Linked DNA regions of Homo sapiens: all the other regions are linked to region 3. The links come from fine-mapping of genetic effects on gene expression. A gene starts in region 3. Each other region holds a variant in brackets. All regions are shown on one strand. Distances are from middle to middle.

Evidence for each region. PIP is the estimated chance that this variant, and not a neighbour inherited with it, causes the effect.
Region 1: its variant is the best candidate, but not a certain one, in a credible set for the expression of JAML in whole blood (INTERVAL, PIP 0.87).
Region 2: its variant is the best candidate, but not a certain one, in a credible set for the expression of JAML in whole blood (INTERVAL, PIP 0.68).

Annotation. Positions count from the first base shown.
Region 1 is chr11:118,183,196-118,188,422 of GRCh38, reverse strand. No RefSeq gene overlaps it. Among named protein-coding and RNA genes, the nearest start is that of SCN2B, 9.2 kb to the right of the region's middle. The variant A/G (reference allele first, on the strand shown) is at 3,046.
Region 2 is chr11:118,189,144-118,194,370 of GRCh38, reverse strand. JAML (junction adhesion molecule like) reads left to right here. Exons shown (of 10, transcript NM_001098526.2): 10 at 1-646. The coding sequence ends at 46. Among named protein-coding and RNA genes, the nearest start is that of SCN2B, 15 kb to the right of the region's middle. RefSeq lists an enhancer at 1-107. The variant T/C (reference allele first, on the strand shown) is at 1,976.
Region 3 is chr11:118,221,828-118,227,054 of GRCh38, reverse strand. It overlaps JAML (junction adhesion molecule like), which reads left to right and starts at 2,044. Exons shown (of 10, transcript NM_001098526.2): 1 at 2,044-2,114. MPZL3 (myelin protein zero like 3) reads left to right here. Exons shown (of 6, transcript NM_198275.3): 6 at 1-365.

The sequences.
Region 1 (5,227 bases), 39 kb after region 3:
GAAATAATGCCATTTGCAGCAATCTGGATGGAACTGGAGAACATTATTCTAAGTCAAGTAACTCACGAATGGAAAATCAAACATCGTATGTTCTCACCTATAAGTGGGAGCTAAGCTATGAGGATGCAAAGGCATAAGAATGATACAATAAACTCTGAGGACTCAGAAAGGGTGGGGAGGTAAGGGATAAAAGACTACACACTGGGTACAGTGTACACTGCTCAGGTGATGGGTGCATCAATATCTCAGAAATCACCACTGAAGAACTTACTCATGTAACCAAACACCACCTGTTCCCCAAAAACCTATTGAAAAAAAAATCCTTTGGGGTTGGGTGCAGTGTCTCATGCTTGTAATCCCAGCACTTTGGGAGGCTGAAGGGGAGGATCACTTGAGGCCAGGAGTTCAAGACCAGTCTGGGCAACATGGTGAGACCCTCATCTCAATAAAATAAAGTAAAATAAAATAAAATAAAATAAATAAAATTGATTAGCTAGGTGTGGAGGTGCATGCCTTTGGTCCCAGCTACTCAGGAGGCTAAGGTAGGAAGATCACTCAAGCCCAGGAGTTAGAAGCTGCAGTGAGATATGATTGCGCCACTGCACTCCACTCCAGCCTGGGCAACAGGCTAAGATCCTGTCTCAAAATAAGAAAGAGGAAAGGAAGGGAAAGGGAAGAGGAAGGAAAAGAAGAAACTAAAGAATATCCTTTGGTTCTGAACAACTTCCAGCCTCTGCGGACCAGCCTGGGTTCAGCTCTGGTCTCCTTTCCTTGACTGCTACAGACTCTTTCTTATTCTCTGCAACCCTTTCTTCATATTTAGCCATGCAGGGCCAGATAAAGAGGAGGTCTTTTCTGTTTTTCTGATTTCTGATCCAGTCTTAAATGGGGCTACATTTTTTTTTTCCTTTTTTGAGACGGAGTCTCGCTCTGTCACCCAGGCTGGAGTGCAATGGTGCTATTACGGCTCACTGCAACCTCTGCCTCCCAGGTTCAAGTGATTCTCTTGTCTCAGCCTCCCAAGTATTACAGGCGATTACAGGGATTACAGGCACACACTGCCATGCCCGGCTAATTTTTTGTATTTTTAGTAGAGACGGGGTTTCACCATGCTTCCCAGGCTGGTCTTGAACTCCCAAGCTCAGGCAATCCACCTGCCTCGGCCTCCCAAAGTGCTAGGATTACAGGTATGAACCACTGCGGCTGGTGGGGCTACATTTTTAATGATTTCCCCCAACTCTCCAAACATTAGGATCCTCTCATAACACACAGGTTATGTTCTAGTTTAGACATGGATAAGCATCATTAAATTCTTCCTTCCTATCTGCCAGCTCTTGATGAGGAGTTATGTCAGGGTTTTCCATATGGGTATTGAAGGCAGTATCCTGTCCCAGACATACCAGGGACACATATTGGTGAGACAAGTAGAGGGGGAAGAGGACTTTATTATATCTGGAGTGTTCATGGAGAGGAAGTGGTTTCATTTCTGGGCTATTAAGTAACTTCTCTCCTGGAATAAGGGACCCTTTTCCACTTCCTCAAATATTGTGTGCATTGGAAGATGGCCTTCAGGATACAGAGTTAGGTGGGTGGATGGTGATTTTACATCTGTTGCTCAGGGTCTAAGAAAATAATTAGGGTAAGAGCAGGAGGATGGGCTGGACAGGTTAGCCACATGATCCTCAGCAGGCACTTGGACCGTGAAAGTGTAGGTGTGCCCAAATTCAAATTTGATTCATTCAGAGATTGGCTTCCATTCTGGGTTCGGCAGTTGTGACTGAGGGGGAGGAAGAGGAAGCCCACATCTCTGCTCCAAGTCTTCTTCCCTACAAACCTTCTTATCCACAGGCATGGAGCCAAGGTTGAGGGTGGAAGTCCACAGTTGTCAAACACGAATTTCGCCTAAAGCCGAAGCAGCCCTACAGGGGACTGGGAAAGAGACCGGCTTCTCTCTCAGCCCTTCTGCTAGAGGTGGTTTGTCCATTACACCCAGGAACATGAAGGGAAATTGTGTAGGGAATGGGCTTCAAGATCAAATAGTCCTGGTTCAAATCCTGGCTGCCTCTTCCTCTTCAATATTGCAAAGTGTGTTTAAATCCTTTGAGGCTGTTTTCCTTATATGTAAAATGGAGACTCACAGAAGTTTGTTAGTTTGTTTGTTTTGCAAGGACTGAATGAGGTAGTATAGGGGATAGTGCCTGGCCTGAGCCCTCCCTTTCCTTCAAATGTGTTTTTCCAGGTAGATGTATCTTCTTAACGTCACTCAGAAATGAAGAACCCACTCAGAAATAGGTTATTTTATCTTCTATTTAATGCTAGTCAATCTTTGCTATTCAATCTTAATAACACAATTAACAATAGGGATGGACAATATCTTCTGGTGATTCAGTCCCCATCTCTTAATTTTGATTTCTACGGACAAAAAGCGCTTTACCAAAATCCGTAAATCCCTCTTCCTATCCGAAGAAAGACTGAGTTAGGAAGCTGAGCTTAGGCCAAGGCTTTGTATAGCTCTGAGGAGACAGATTTTGAAGGACTGGAAAGCTACTGAAGATCCCTGTAGTAGAGCCTTTGGAAAGCAGTTTTGTTACCTGAATTTGCAGTATTTTAGATCCCTGGAACATCAGATGCTCTCATATTTTAAGGTTTGCAGAAGTACACAGGCCTTTGCCAACAGAAAGCAGCCCCAAGGCTGGAGGGAGCGGAGCTACTCATGAATAATGGAGAACCTAGCAGCTTCAGAATTTGGCTATCGCAACTGAAAACAGTTCTGCTTGTCCACTGGGGATCGGTAGAAGATGAGCTGAGTCTCCTTCAAAAGGCTGCAGCCTTTTGTCGGCCAGGCGTGGTGGCTCACGCCTGTAATCCCAGCATTTTGGGAGGCCAAGTTGGGCGGATCACCTGAGGTTGGGAGTTTGAGACCAGCCTGACCAACATGGAGAAACCCTGTCTCTACTAAAAATACAAAATTAGCTGGGTGTGGTGGCGCATGCCTGTAATCCCAGCTACTCAGGAGGCTGAGGCAGAAGAATTGCTTTAACTCGG[A/G]AGGTGGAGGTTGCGGTGAGCCGAGATTGCGCCATTGCACTCCAGTCTGGGCAACAAGAGCGAAACTCAGTCACACACACACACACACACAAAAGGCTGCAGCCTTCTACCAGCCCTTTAGTTGTCTCTTCCTGGTTGCCCCCAACCAGTGTCCTTTTCTCCCTTTTGACTAGTCGGTATGCTCACCTGTCTGTTGGTAATTGGCCATTTTCCTTCATAAAACACTAGCTCTGTTTGTGTGTGGTTGGAGGGAGCCACTGAGTTAGCTCAGTTATTTAGAGCTGCAGAGCCCTAGGTTGCAGTTATCCTCTTAATTCAGCATAAACAAAGTTTCCCAGGACCACTGACCTTCTGTCCTGGCCAGCTAGTTTGCAGATGTGGTCTAGGGAGGTCAGGCAATCCGTGACCACTTCTGTAAAACCCAACTACCAGAACATCTCTTCTTCAAAAAATAAGGGAACTTAAAGTTTTCTCAGAAAGCTGAGAACTTTCTCATTTCGTAGATGGTGCAAGCCATAGTGATTTACCTGTCTGAGATCTTTCAAAGCTGTGTGAACTCTGTCTTGTATGTTCATGGCCTTCTGTGTGCTGGTGCCATCTTGTCTGCCCATCTATACTTCATTAAAAAAAAATAGTTTTAGGCCAGGTGCGGTGGCTCATGCCTGTAATCCCAGCACTTTGGGAAGTCCAGGCTGGTGGATCACCTGAGGTCAGGAGTTCGAGACCAGCCTGGCCAACATGGAGAAACCCCCCCATCTCTACTAAAAATACAACAAATTAGCCGGGCATGGTGGTGAGCCTCTGTAATCCCAGCTACTCGGGAGGCTGAGGCAGGAGAGTTGCTTGAACCTGGGAGGCAGAGGTTGCAGTGAGCCAAGGTCATGCCATTGCACTCCAGCCTGGGCAACAAGAGCGAAACTCCATCTCAAAAAAAAAAAAAAGTTTTAATGTTTTTTTTTTATTTCAATAGTTTTTGTAGAACCGGTGGTTTTTGGTTACATGGATAAGTTCTTTAGTGGTGATTTCTGAGATTTTAGGGCACCCATCACCTGAGCAGTGTACACTGTACTCAATATGTAGTCTTTTATCCTCAGCCTCCTCACAGCCTCCCTCCAGAGTGCCCAAAGTCCATTACATCACTCTTACACCTTTGAGTTCTCATAGCTTAGCTCACACTTATAAGTGAGAGCATACCATATTTGGTTTTCCATTCCTGAGTTACTTCACTTAGAATAACGGCCTCCAGCTCCATCCAAGTTGCTGCAAAAGACATTACTTCATCCCTTTCTATGGCCAAGTAGTATTCCATGGTGTGTATATACACCACATTTTCTTTATCCACTCATTGGTGGATGGGCACTTCTGTTGGTTCCATATCTTTGCAGTTGTGAATTGTGCTACTATAAACATGCACGTGCATGTGTCTTTTCCATATAATGACTTCCTTTCCTTTGGGTAGATACCCAGTAGTGGGATTGCTGGATTGAATGGTAGTTCTACTTTTAGTTCTCTTTTTTTTTTGAGATGGAGTTTCACTCTTGTCACCCAGACTGAAGTGCAGCGGCGTGATCTTGACTCACTGTAACCTCTGCCTCCCAGGTTCAAGCAATTCTCCTGCCTCACCCTCCTGAGTAGCTGGGATTACAGGTGCCTGCCACCACGCTCGGCTAATTTTTTGTATTTTTAGTAGAAACGGGATTTTGCCATGTTGGGCAGGCTGGTCTTGAACTCTTGACCCCAGGTGATCCGCATGCCTCGGCCTCCCAAAATGCTGGGATTACAGGTGTGAGCCACCACACCCGGCCTACTTTTAGTTCTTTAAGGAATCTCCACACTGTTTTCTATAGTGGTTGTACTAATTTACATTCCCATCAGCAGTGTAAAAGTGTTCCCTTTTCACTGCATCCACACCAATATCTACTGTTTTTTAAGTATTTAATTATGGCCATTCTTGCGGGAGTAAGATGGTATCTCATTGTGGTTTTAATTTGCATTTCCCTGGTGATTAGTGATGTTGCATGCCTCATTTTTTTTTCACAACAGGAACCCTCTGCTCCATGCATTGTTGTCTTTCCTGCTATTGGTGTACTCTTGCCTGGGATGACACTTTCCTTTCCTTCTTGCCTCCCCACATCAACATTCCTTCAATGCCCTGCTTTAGATCACCCGCCTGGGTGATCTC
Region 2 (5,227 bases), 33 kb after region 3:
AAAAAAGTCAGGTGGGGGAATGCCAAAAACACAGCAAGCCTTTTGAGAAGAATGGAGAGTCCCTTCATCTCAGCAGCGGTGGAGACTCTCTCCTGTGTGTGTCCTGGGCCACTCTACCAGTGATTTCAGACTCCCGCTCTCCCAGCTGTCCTCCTGTCTCATTGTTTGGTCAATACACTGAAGATGGAGAATTTGGAGCCTGGCAGAGAGACTGGACAGCTCTGGAGGAACAGGCCTGCTGAGGGGAGGGGAGCATGGACTTGGCCTCTGGAGTGGGACACTGGCCCTGGGAACCAGGCTGAGCTGAGTGGCCTCAAACCCCCCGTTGGATCAGACCCTCCTGTGGGCAGGGTTCTTAGTGGATGAGTTACTGGGAAGAATCAGAGATAAAAACCAACCCAAATCATTCCTCTGGCACATTATTTCTAAATAAGTGTTGTTTGTGGAAATCGTCCTATTTTTATGCCTCGGTTGAGGGGGCAAGTAAAGTCCTGGTGAGGAATTTACAGTTAGAAACTTTTGGAAAAACTGAAGTTCCTGGAGGAAAGCCAAACCGTGCTAACACACTAGAGGCTGGTTTTGGTCCTGGGAAAGGTTTGGGGTGAATGGGTTGGAAGTAGGGTATGAATACAGTTTTGGGATTTAACTCAGTGGTTCTTCATTCCTGCTGGTGGCTCCTTGCGGGGCCTCACCACATGCCTCCTAATTTGAAATTTCTGGGTGAAGTTTAGGCATTTGTCTTTCCTGATACTCATGGGTTGCCACAGTGGACAGCCACTGATTTAATTCTTGGTCTGAAATGTGCGGTTCCTATACTTTTAGTTGCTATTGTAAGATTTGATAAGGTTAGTCTTAAAAATCCTTTGGCGGGGGGCATCCAAATTGGTAATGAGGAAGTCAAACTGTCTCTGTTTGCTGATGACATAATCATAAACCTTGAAAACCCTAAAGACTCATCCAAAAAGCTCCTAGAACTGGTAAATGAATTCAGCAAAGTTTCAGGATACATAATTAATGTATACAAATCAGTAGCTTTGCTGTACACCAATAGCAACCAAGCTGAGAATCAAATCAATAACTTAATCTCTTTTATAATAGCTGCAAAAAAAATTAAAATACTTAGGAATATACTTAACCAAGGAGGTGAAAGACCTCTACAATGAAAACTACAAAATACTGCTGAAAGGAATCATAGACAGCACAAATGGAAACACATCCCATGCTCACGCATGGGTAGAATCAATATTGTGAAAATGACCATACTGCCTGTATTTAGTTTGTTTTCATGCTCCTGATAAAGACATACCCGAGACTGGGAAGAAAAAGAGGTTTAATTGGACTTACAGTTCCACATGGCTGCAGAGGTCTCAGAATCATGGCGGGAAGTGAAAGGCACTTCTTATACGGCGGTGGCAAGAGAAAATGAGGAAGATGCAAAAGTAGAAACCCCTGATAAAACCATCAAATCTCATGAGACTTATTCACTACCATGAGAACAGTATGGGGGAAACCACCTCAATGATTCAAATTATCTCCCACTAGGCCCCTCCCACAATATGTGGGAATTATGGGAGTATAATTTAAGATGGGCTGGGTGCGGTGGCTCTCGCCTGTAATCCCAGCACTTTGGGAGGCCAAGGCAGGCAGATCACAAGGTCAGGAGATCGAGACTATGGTGAAACCCCATCTCTACTAAAAAAAATACAAAAAATTAGCCGGGCATGGTGGCGGGCGCCTGTAGTCCCAGCTACTCGGGAGGGTGAGGCAGGAGAATGGCATGAACCCGGAAGGCAGAGCTTGCAGTGAGCTGAGATTGCACCACTGCACTCCACACTGGGCAACAGAGCGAGACTCCATCTCAAAATAATAATAATAATAATACTTTAAGATGATATTTGGGTGGGTACACAGAACCAAACCATATCATTCCACCTCTGGCCCTTCCAAATCTCATGTCCTCACATTTCAAAACAAA[T/C]CATGCCTTCCCAACAGCCCCCAAAAGTCTTAACTCATTTCAGCATTAACCCAAAGTCTACAGTCCAAAGTCTCATCTGAAATAAGGCAAGTCCCTTCCACCTATGAGCCTGTGAAATCAAAAGCAAGCTGGTTACTTCCAACATACAATGGGGGTAAAAGGTATTGGGTAAATACAGCCATTCCAAATGGGAGAAATTGGCCAAAACAAAGTGGTTACAGGGCCCATGCAAGTCTGAAATCCAGCAAGGCAGTCAAAATTTAGAGCTTCAAAAATGATCTCCTTTGACTCCAGGTCTCACATCCAGGTCACACTGATGCAAGAAGTGGGTTCCCATGGTCTTCGGCAGCTCTGCCCTGTGGCTTTGCAGGGTACAGCCTCCTTCCTGGCTGTTTTCATGGGCTGGCAGTGAGTGTCTGCAGCTTTTCCAGGTGAACGGTGCAAGCTGTTGGTGGATCTACCATTCTGGGGTCTGGAGGATGGTAGCCCTCTTCTCACAGCTCCACTAGGCAGTGCCCCAGTAGGGACTCTGTATGGGGGCTCTGATCTCACATTTCCCTTCTGCACTGCCCTAGCAGAGGTTCTCCATGAGGGCCCCGCCCCTGTAGCAAACTTTTGCCTGGGCATCCAGGCATTTCCACACATCTTCTAAAATCTAGGCAGAGGTTCCCAAACCCCAGTTCTTGACTTCTGCGCACTCGCAGGCTCAACACCACATGGAAGCTGCCAAAGCTTGGGACTTGCACCCTCTGAAGTCATGGCCTGAGCTCTATGGTGGCCCCTTTCAGCCATGGCTGGAGTGGCTGGGATGCAGGGCACCAAGTCCCTAGGCTGCACACAGCGCGGGGACACTGGGCCTGGCCCATGAAACCATTTTCTCCTAGGCCTTCTGGCCTGTGATGGGAGGGGCTGCTGTGAAGACCTCTGACATGCCCTGGAGACATTTTCCCCATTGTCTTAGGGATTAACACTCAGCAACTTGTTACTTATGCAAATTTCTGCAGCCAGCTTAAATTTCTTCTCAGAAAATGGGTTTTTCTTTTCTATCACATTATCAGGCTGCAAATTTTCTGAACTTTTATGCTCTGCTTCCCTTATAAAACTGAATGCCTTTAGCAGCACCCAAGTCACCTCTTGAATGCTTTGCTGCTTAGAAATTTCTTCTGCCAGATACCCTAAATCACCTCTCTTCAGTTCAAAGTTCCACAAATCTCTAGGGCAGGGGCAAAATGCCACCAGTCTGTTTGCTAAAACATAACAAGAGTCACCTTTGCTCCGGTTCCCAACAAGTTCCTCATCTCCATCTGAGACCGCCTCAGCCTGGACCTTATTGTCTATATTGTCATCAGGCTTTTGCTCAAAGCCATTCAGCAAGTCTCTAGGAAGTCCCAAACTTACCCACATTTTCCTGTCTTCTTCTGAGCCCTCCAAACTGTTGCCACCTCTGCCTGTTACCCAGTTCCAAAGTACCTTCCGCATTTTCAGGTATCTTTTCAGCAGTGCCCCACTCAATGGGTACCAGTTTACTGTATTAGTTGGTTTTCTTTTTTTTTTTTTTTTTTGAGACGGAGTCTTGCTCTGTCACCCAGGCTGGAGTGCAGTAGCGTGATCTCGGCTCACTGCAAACTCCGCCTCCTGGGTTCATGTCATTCTCCTGCCTCAGCCTCCCGAGTAGGTGGGACTACAGGTGTGCGCCACCATGCCTGGCTAATTTTTTGTATTTTTAGTAGAGACGGGCTTTCACCACGTAAGCCGGGTTGGACTTGATCTCCTGACCTTGTGATCCACTCTCCTTGGCCTCCCAAAGTACTGGGATTACAGGCGTGAGCCACCGTGCCCGGCCATTAGTTCGTTTTCACACTGCTGATAAAGACATACCCGAGACTGGGAAGAAAAATTGGACCTACAGTTCCACATGGCTGGGGAGGCCTCTGAATCATGATGGGAGGCAAAAGGCACTTCTTACATGGGGGCAGCAAGAGAAAATGAGGAAGATGCAAGAGCAGAAACCCCTGATAAAACCATCAGATCTCATGAAACTTATTCACTACCATGAGAAGAGTATGAGGGAAACTGCCCCCACGATTCAAATCGTCTTTCACTGGGTCCCTCATACAACATGTGGGAATTATGGGAGTACAATTCAAGATGAGATTTGGATGGGACACAGAGTCAAACAATACCACTGCCAAAAGCAATCTACAAATTCAATGCAACTCCCATCAAAATACCTCCACCATTCTTCACAGAAATAGAAAAAACTATCCCAAAATTCAAATGGAACCAAAAAACAGCTTGCATAGCCAAAGCAAGATTAAGCAAAAAGAGCAAATCTGGAGGCATTACATTCCCCAACTTCAAACTATACTATAAAGCCAGTCATCAAAACAGCATGGTACTGGTATAAAAATAGGCATATAGACCAATGGAACAGAATAGAGAACCCAGAAATATAGCCAAATACTTACAAGTCAACTGATGTGTGATAAAGCAAACAAAAATATGAAGTGGGGAAAGGACACCCTATTCAACAAATGGTGCCGGGATAAATGGCAAGCCACATGTAGAAGAATGAAGCTGGATCCTCATCTCTCTCCTATACAAAAATCAACTTCAGATAGATCAAAGACTTAAATCTAAGACCTGGCTCCATAAAAATTCTAGGAGATAACATTAGAAAAACCCTTCTAGACATTGGGTTAGGCAAAGACTTCATGACCAAGAACCCAAAAGCAAATGCAACAAAAACAAAGATAAATAGATGGGATTTAATTAAACTAAAAAGCTTTTGCACAGCAAAAGAAATAATCAGCAGAGTAAACAGACAACCCACAGAGTGGGAGAAAATCTTTGCAATCTGTATATCCAACAAAGGACTATTATAATATCCAGAATCTACAAGGAACTCAAATAAATCAGCAAGAATAAAACAAACAAACCCATAAATTAGTGGGCTAAGGACATGAATAGACAATTCTCAAAAGAAGATATACAAATGGCCAAGAAACATACGAAAAAATGCTCAACATCACTAATTATCAGGAAATGCAAATCAAAACCACTATGCCATACCACCTCACTCCTGCAAGAACAGTCATAATAAAAAAAAATTTTTTTTAATTTTAAATTTTAGATGTTGGCATGGATGTGGTGAAAAGGGAACACTTTTACAAGGTTGGTGGGAATGTCAACTAGTACAACCATGATGGAAAACAGTGTGGAGATTCCTTAAAGAACTAAAAATAGATCTAC
Region 3 (5,227 bases):
GAGAGAAGGTAGCACGTCTTTGTTCAAAACAAAACAAAACGACACTTCTGGAGGCCACATCCTGAATATGAATGTTCTACTAAGTCACTCAGTTATGGTTCTAAAGGGAAACTGTAAGAAGACCCACAAGGAGTGGACCAAGACTATTATTTAATTGCACAACTTGAAACTTTGCTGCCAGAAGAGGCAGCTCCATTCCTTTGACTCCAGTGTTGGGCTGTTAACTGCTGCACCTCATTGCCTTTTTTTGTTTTTGTTTTTGTTTTGTAGGAGGGTAGGCACTGTTGGGCCATATGCACAAATATTGTAACTCTTGGTATCTTTACTGCATCATAGTCAATAAACTTCTTTGTACCCTTTGGCTACCTTTTGGTGTGTGCATATCTACATAAAAGGTGGGAATTGTCATGTGAAAAAGATGGGGGTTTGTGGTATTAAAAGCTGAATTAAATTTAAAAGAGTTTAATTGAGCACAGAATGATTCATGAATCAGGCAGTCTCCTGAGCCAGAGTGGACTCAGAGACTCCAGCGCAGCCACGTGGTGGAAGATTTATGGACAGCAAAAGGAAAGTCATGTACAGGAAACAGAAGTGAGGTACAGAAATAGCCGGATTGGTTACAGCTCGGTGTTTGCCTTATTTGAATAGTTTGAATCATTGGCCATCTTCGATTGGCCAAACTCAGTGACTGGCACAAGAGTAGACTAGAGTCCGTATACTATTCCATTTACGTTATAGTTCATGATGTACAGAGAAACCTTTAGGCCAAACTTAAAATATGTAAGGAGGCAGCTTTAGGCTAAACTTGATTTAACAGTGGTTTTCAGCATCGTGCAACCAGTCATGTCGGAGCTGTACCCCCGCAAGAACCTGCAGAGGTTCCGTGGTGTGCTGGAACCAGCTTACATAGCAAGAGCTGATTACAGGCTGAGTACCCCTAATCTGAAAATACAAAAGAGTGGTTGCTATTTCAACTCCAAAATCTGTAACTTTGAGTGCCAACATGATGCTCCAAAGAAATGCTTATTGGAGCATTTTGGATTTTCAGACTAGGGACGTTCAACTTGTATGTATTCGGCAAATATTCTAAAATCTGAAAAAAATATGAAATCTGAAACATTTCTGGTCCCAAGCATATTGGATAAGGGATACTCAACCTGTATTAAGTTTTTTAGGAATTTTGCAAGCCAGTTGTTAAACTGTTGGTAGCTTGAAATAGGTTATGATGGGAATATTTATGCTGTGGAGATTGCTGGCTCTCTAGCACATCACTTCTCAAGGACCATGCAGCGTAGTGCTTGGGAGCAAACGTTCAACAGCTTTTCAGATGATACAGGACAAGTTCCATGAGTCTGCCCATGCCTAGGTCAAGCCAATCTAGCCGAGGTTGAAGGTGCGTACATTGAGAACACCTATTTTGAAGTGGTGACTAAGACTGAGAGGTATCTTGAAGTGAAGAAACCTTGAGTTCTAATCTAGGATGTCCAAGTCACCCAAGAGGTTCTCTATGGGAATCAATGGCTGCCTGTATTCTGGAAATGCTGATATCACATGGCCAGAGGAAACTTTCATGTCTACATGGTGAGTTGGAGGACTGGGCAGGCGTATCTTTGGAAGCAGGGATTGGGTGATTGCCTGGCGAGGTTGCACCTCTGTTTTGAGAGGAAAAATAAAAGAGGTTGCTGTATCTTTAACACAGAAGGTTTTGTGTTAATATTACGTTTATTGTATTTTGTTTGCATGAAATGGATTTCTTTCTCAGCACCTATTTGCCTGGTGCCATTCAAGCTCCTACCCTCAGAGGGCTTGTCATCTAAAAGGGGAGATGGCACCTGAAGAGGTCTGAGTGTGAGGTTCACCTCAGTAGGTTGAATTTGTCACCTCTTTTTAGAATGAAAGTATACATAACAATTGGGTAATGGGCCAGATGACTGAAATGAGAACCTTGATTTAGAGGTTCCTGTTTGCATCTCTGCAACCACTTCAGAAGGCACGTGTTTGGTTTGCTCTGAGCCTAACCTAGAGTGCTCGCAGCAGTCTTTCAGTTGAGCTTGGGGACTGCAGCTGTGGGGAGATTTCAGTGCATTGCCTCCCCTGGGTGCTCTTCATCTTGGGTAAGCAGTTGCTTTGAATTTCTTAAGCCATTTTTTGAACTTTTCTCACACAGAAGTGTGCCAGTCCTGAAGGCTGGTTGAATTGGTAGTCTCTCAGGATTGTGAAGCTGCGATTGCAGAACTCTTGATCTCTGCAGGGGGATGTCATAAAGTAGTCTAATGGGTGCTGTTTCAGTTACTGTCGTGTAGAGTAACTTAGGTGAATCTCCTCAGCAAAAAGAGGAGCAAAGTTTCATCATAATAAGAGTACGTGACAATGATTATGACAAGGCTTCAGCTTTTAAGTCACCCGTGGGTTTAGGTGGAGCTGTGACTGGCTGTTCTTGAGCTCACAGCAGAGCTCTTTCTTCACTGTTTTTCTTTTTAGAAGACAGTTTTTAATTTTATTTTTAAACAAATTTTATTGTGTGTATTTAAGGTATACAACATGATGTTGTGGGATGCATGTAGATAGTAAAAAGTTTACTATGGTGAAGCAGATTAATATATCCATCATTTTACATAGTTATACCACTGTTTTTCTTCTCCCCATTATAGACAAACCAATATTTAACCTTTAGAAGCCCGAGACTTAAATCTCCCAAGAAAGCTAGGCTACTGTCCATGCTTGTTACACCCTCAGCACAGCCCTGACCTTGGGAAAGGCTGATGCAGGATGGTTTAGGTATAACCTACTCTGGAGAAGAGAGCAGGAGTAAGGACCTCCAGGGTCCCATTCGCGTAGAGCATTAACCGATGTGACCTAGACTGTGTTACAGAAGCCACGTGACCTACCAGTCTGTATTCAATGGCTTAACAATGGAAAATGAGGGCATATTTTAAGACGCATGGCTTAGAGTGGTTATATGGACTTGTAGACCTAAAAACATCTGAGAGCCTAGAAGTGCACAGCAGTGTGCAGATAGATTGAGAGGACTTGGCTCTGCAGGTGGACAACACTCTGTGAGTAAAAGAAGGCTGTGCAGTTGTCCGTTTGCTCAGTGGTTAGTTGTCCTTACTAGGGACAAACACTGAGAGACAGCAGCTCTCCCTTATTTTGTCTCATGATATTGTAATTTGGGGGGTAACTTTCACATCTTGTATGGTAGTCTCATTGTAGCATGTCTCTTTTCTGAAGATTTCTTTTCTGTAATATAAAGGGGTATGGATTTTTTGGAGGGAGGGGGTGCCACTTGTTCTCATTACCCAACAGGATATGGAGGAGAGTTGCTCAGAGAAGATTAGTATAGAGTCACTACAAGTCATTTAGGTAGCCAAAATGATAACTCCAAAATTTCTAAAAGGCAAAAATCTTTACTTGCTGATAGAGGGGAGAGTCAACTTTCCAAGCAGGTCGCAATAAAGACAGCATGATGCCAACCGAATCTATTTCCTCTCTCCTCCTTTTTCTGTTGTTTATTAAAAGGTAAACAAAAATCTCATTATTTTAAAATATTATGCAAAAATCTTGTTTATGAGAGAAAGCAAAATTTCACCTTTGCATTAGTATATTATTAATGTTAGATCCAATTCTTAATAAAACCTTATAAACAAATCTATACAATCATAGTTTGACCATAAGGTAAAACGTCCACAAACCTCTCATAATTCTTTACAATTTTCTGTTAAACAAATAAATTCTCTAGAAAACCATTATTCAGACACATGGGCCCGGATTCTGGCCCTACATCAGTGTGCTTTTATTTCAGTGTTCGACCTATGGAAAAACTAAGTAATCCCCTTTAAATCTTAGCCAACCTGCTTATACCCACAGAACTTTTCATGAGATTAACCCTTCACAAACCCTTTTCAACTTGCTTAAACCATCAGTTTTGTCACATTACTCTTTTTTTTTTTTTTTTTTTTTGAGACAGAGTCTCACTCTGTCACCTAGGCTGGCATGCAGTGGCACAATCTCGACTCTCTGCAACCTCCGCCTCCCGAGTTCAAGTGATTCTCCTGCCTCAGCCTCCCAAGTAGCTGGGATTACAGGCGCTCACCACCACACCTGATTAATTTTTGTATTTTTAGTAGAGACGGGGTTTTGCCATGTTGGCCAGGCTGGTCTGGAACTCCTAACCTCAAGTGATCTCCCCACCTCAGCCTCCCAAAGTTCTGGGATGACAGGCGTGAGCCACCATGCCCAGCTGTCCCATTACTCTTTTAGGTGAGGCCAATAGTTAAAACCCTCTGAGCTAGACAAAATTACGTTCTCTTTAACAGAAACCATATTCACACGCCTTCTTATAACCTCCCACCAAAACACATTCTTTACTTACACTGTCTTTATTTTTTATGTTATTTACACTGTCTTTATGTTTAAAAATCATTAGAGTCACGTGACCTAAAAGAGATTAAAGTTTCAATTTTTTCTGATAAAATGTTTGATTTTAGTTTCTTTAAGCCAATTAATTAGAGCTCTTTTATATAAATACTATACATACAACACATATAAATACACAGACAGACAGAAATGGAAAATCAAGACAAAATTCCATTGACTGAGAAGTTCTTAGAGGGAAAGCAGGGGCTTTTTGTTTGTTTAGATGGAGTCTCGCTCTGTCGCCAGGTTGGAATGCAGTGGTGCGATCACAACTCGCTGCAGCCTCAGCCTCCTGGGCTCAAGTGATCCTCCCACTTCAGCCTCCTGAGTAGCTAGGACTACAGGTGCCTGCCACTACATCCAGCTAATTTTTGTATTTTTTTTTTGTTCAGATGGTGTTTCACCAAGTTGCTCAGGCTGGTCTCAAACTCCTGGGCTCAAGCGATCTGTCCACCTTGGCCTCTCAAAGTGCTAGGATTATAGGCATAAGCCACTGTGCCTGGCCAGCAGGGGCTTTTAAAACAATATCTGTATACATACAGCCCAAATATCGTCTTTAATTAAGTTGATTTCTGACTATGGAGTTCTCAAAATAAAAATCCTATAAAAATCTTTTATTACCAGATTTTAGCCAGGACAAATGGCCAATATTTCTGGCTTTTGAATCTTTACCTAAAGGTAACCTCCTATGTGAAATTAATAAACCTTAAGTAAGGGGATAACTTAAACAGGGACACACAAGGTGTCTCCAAAGAGATGGTAAGCAATTTACAAGATCTAGAATTGCCCCAAAGGTAACTCAGAGAAAAGA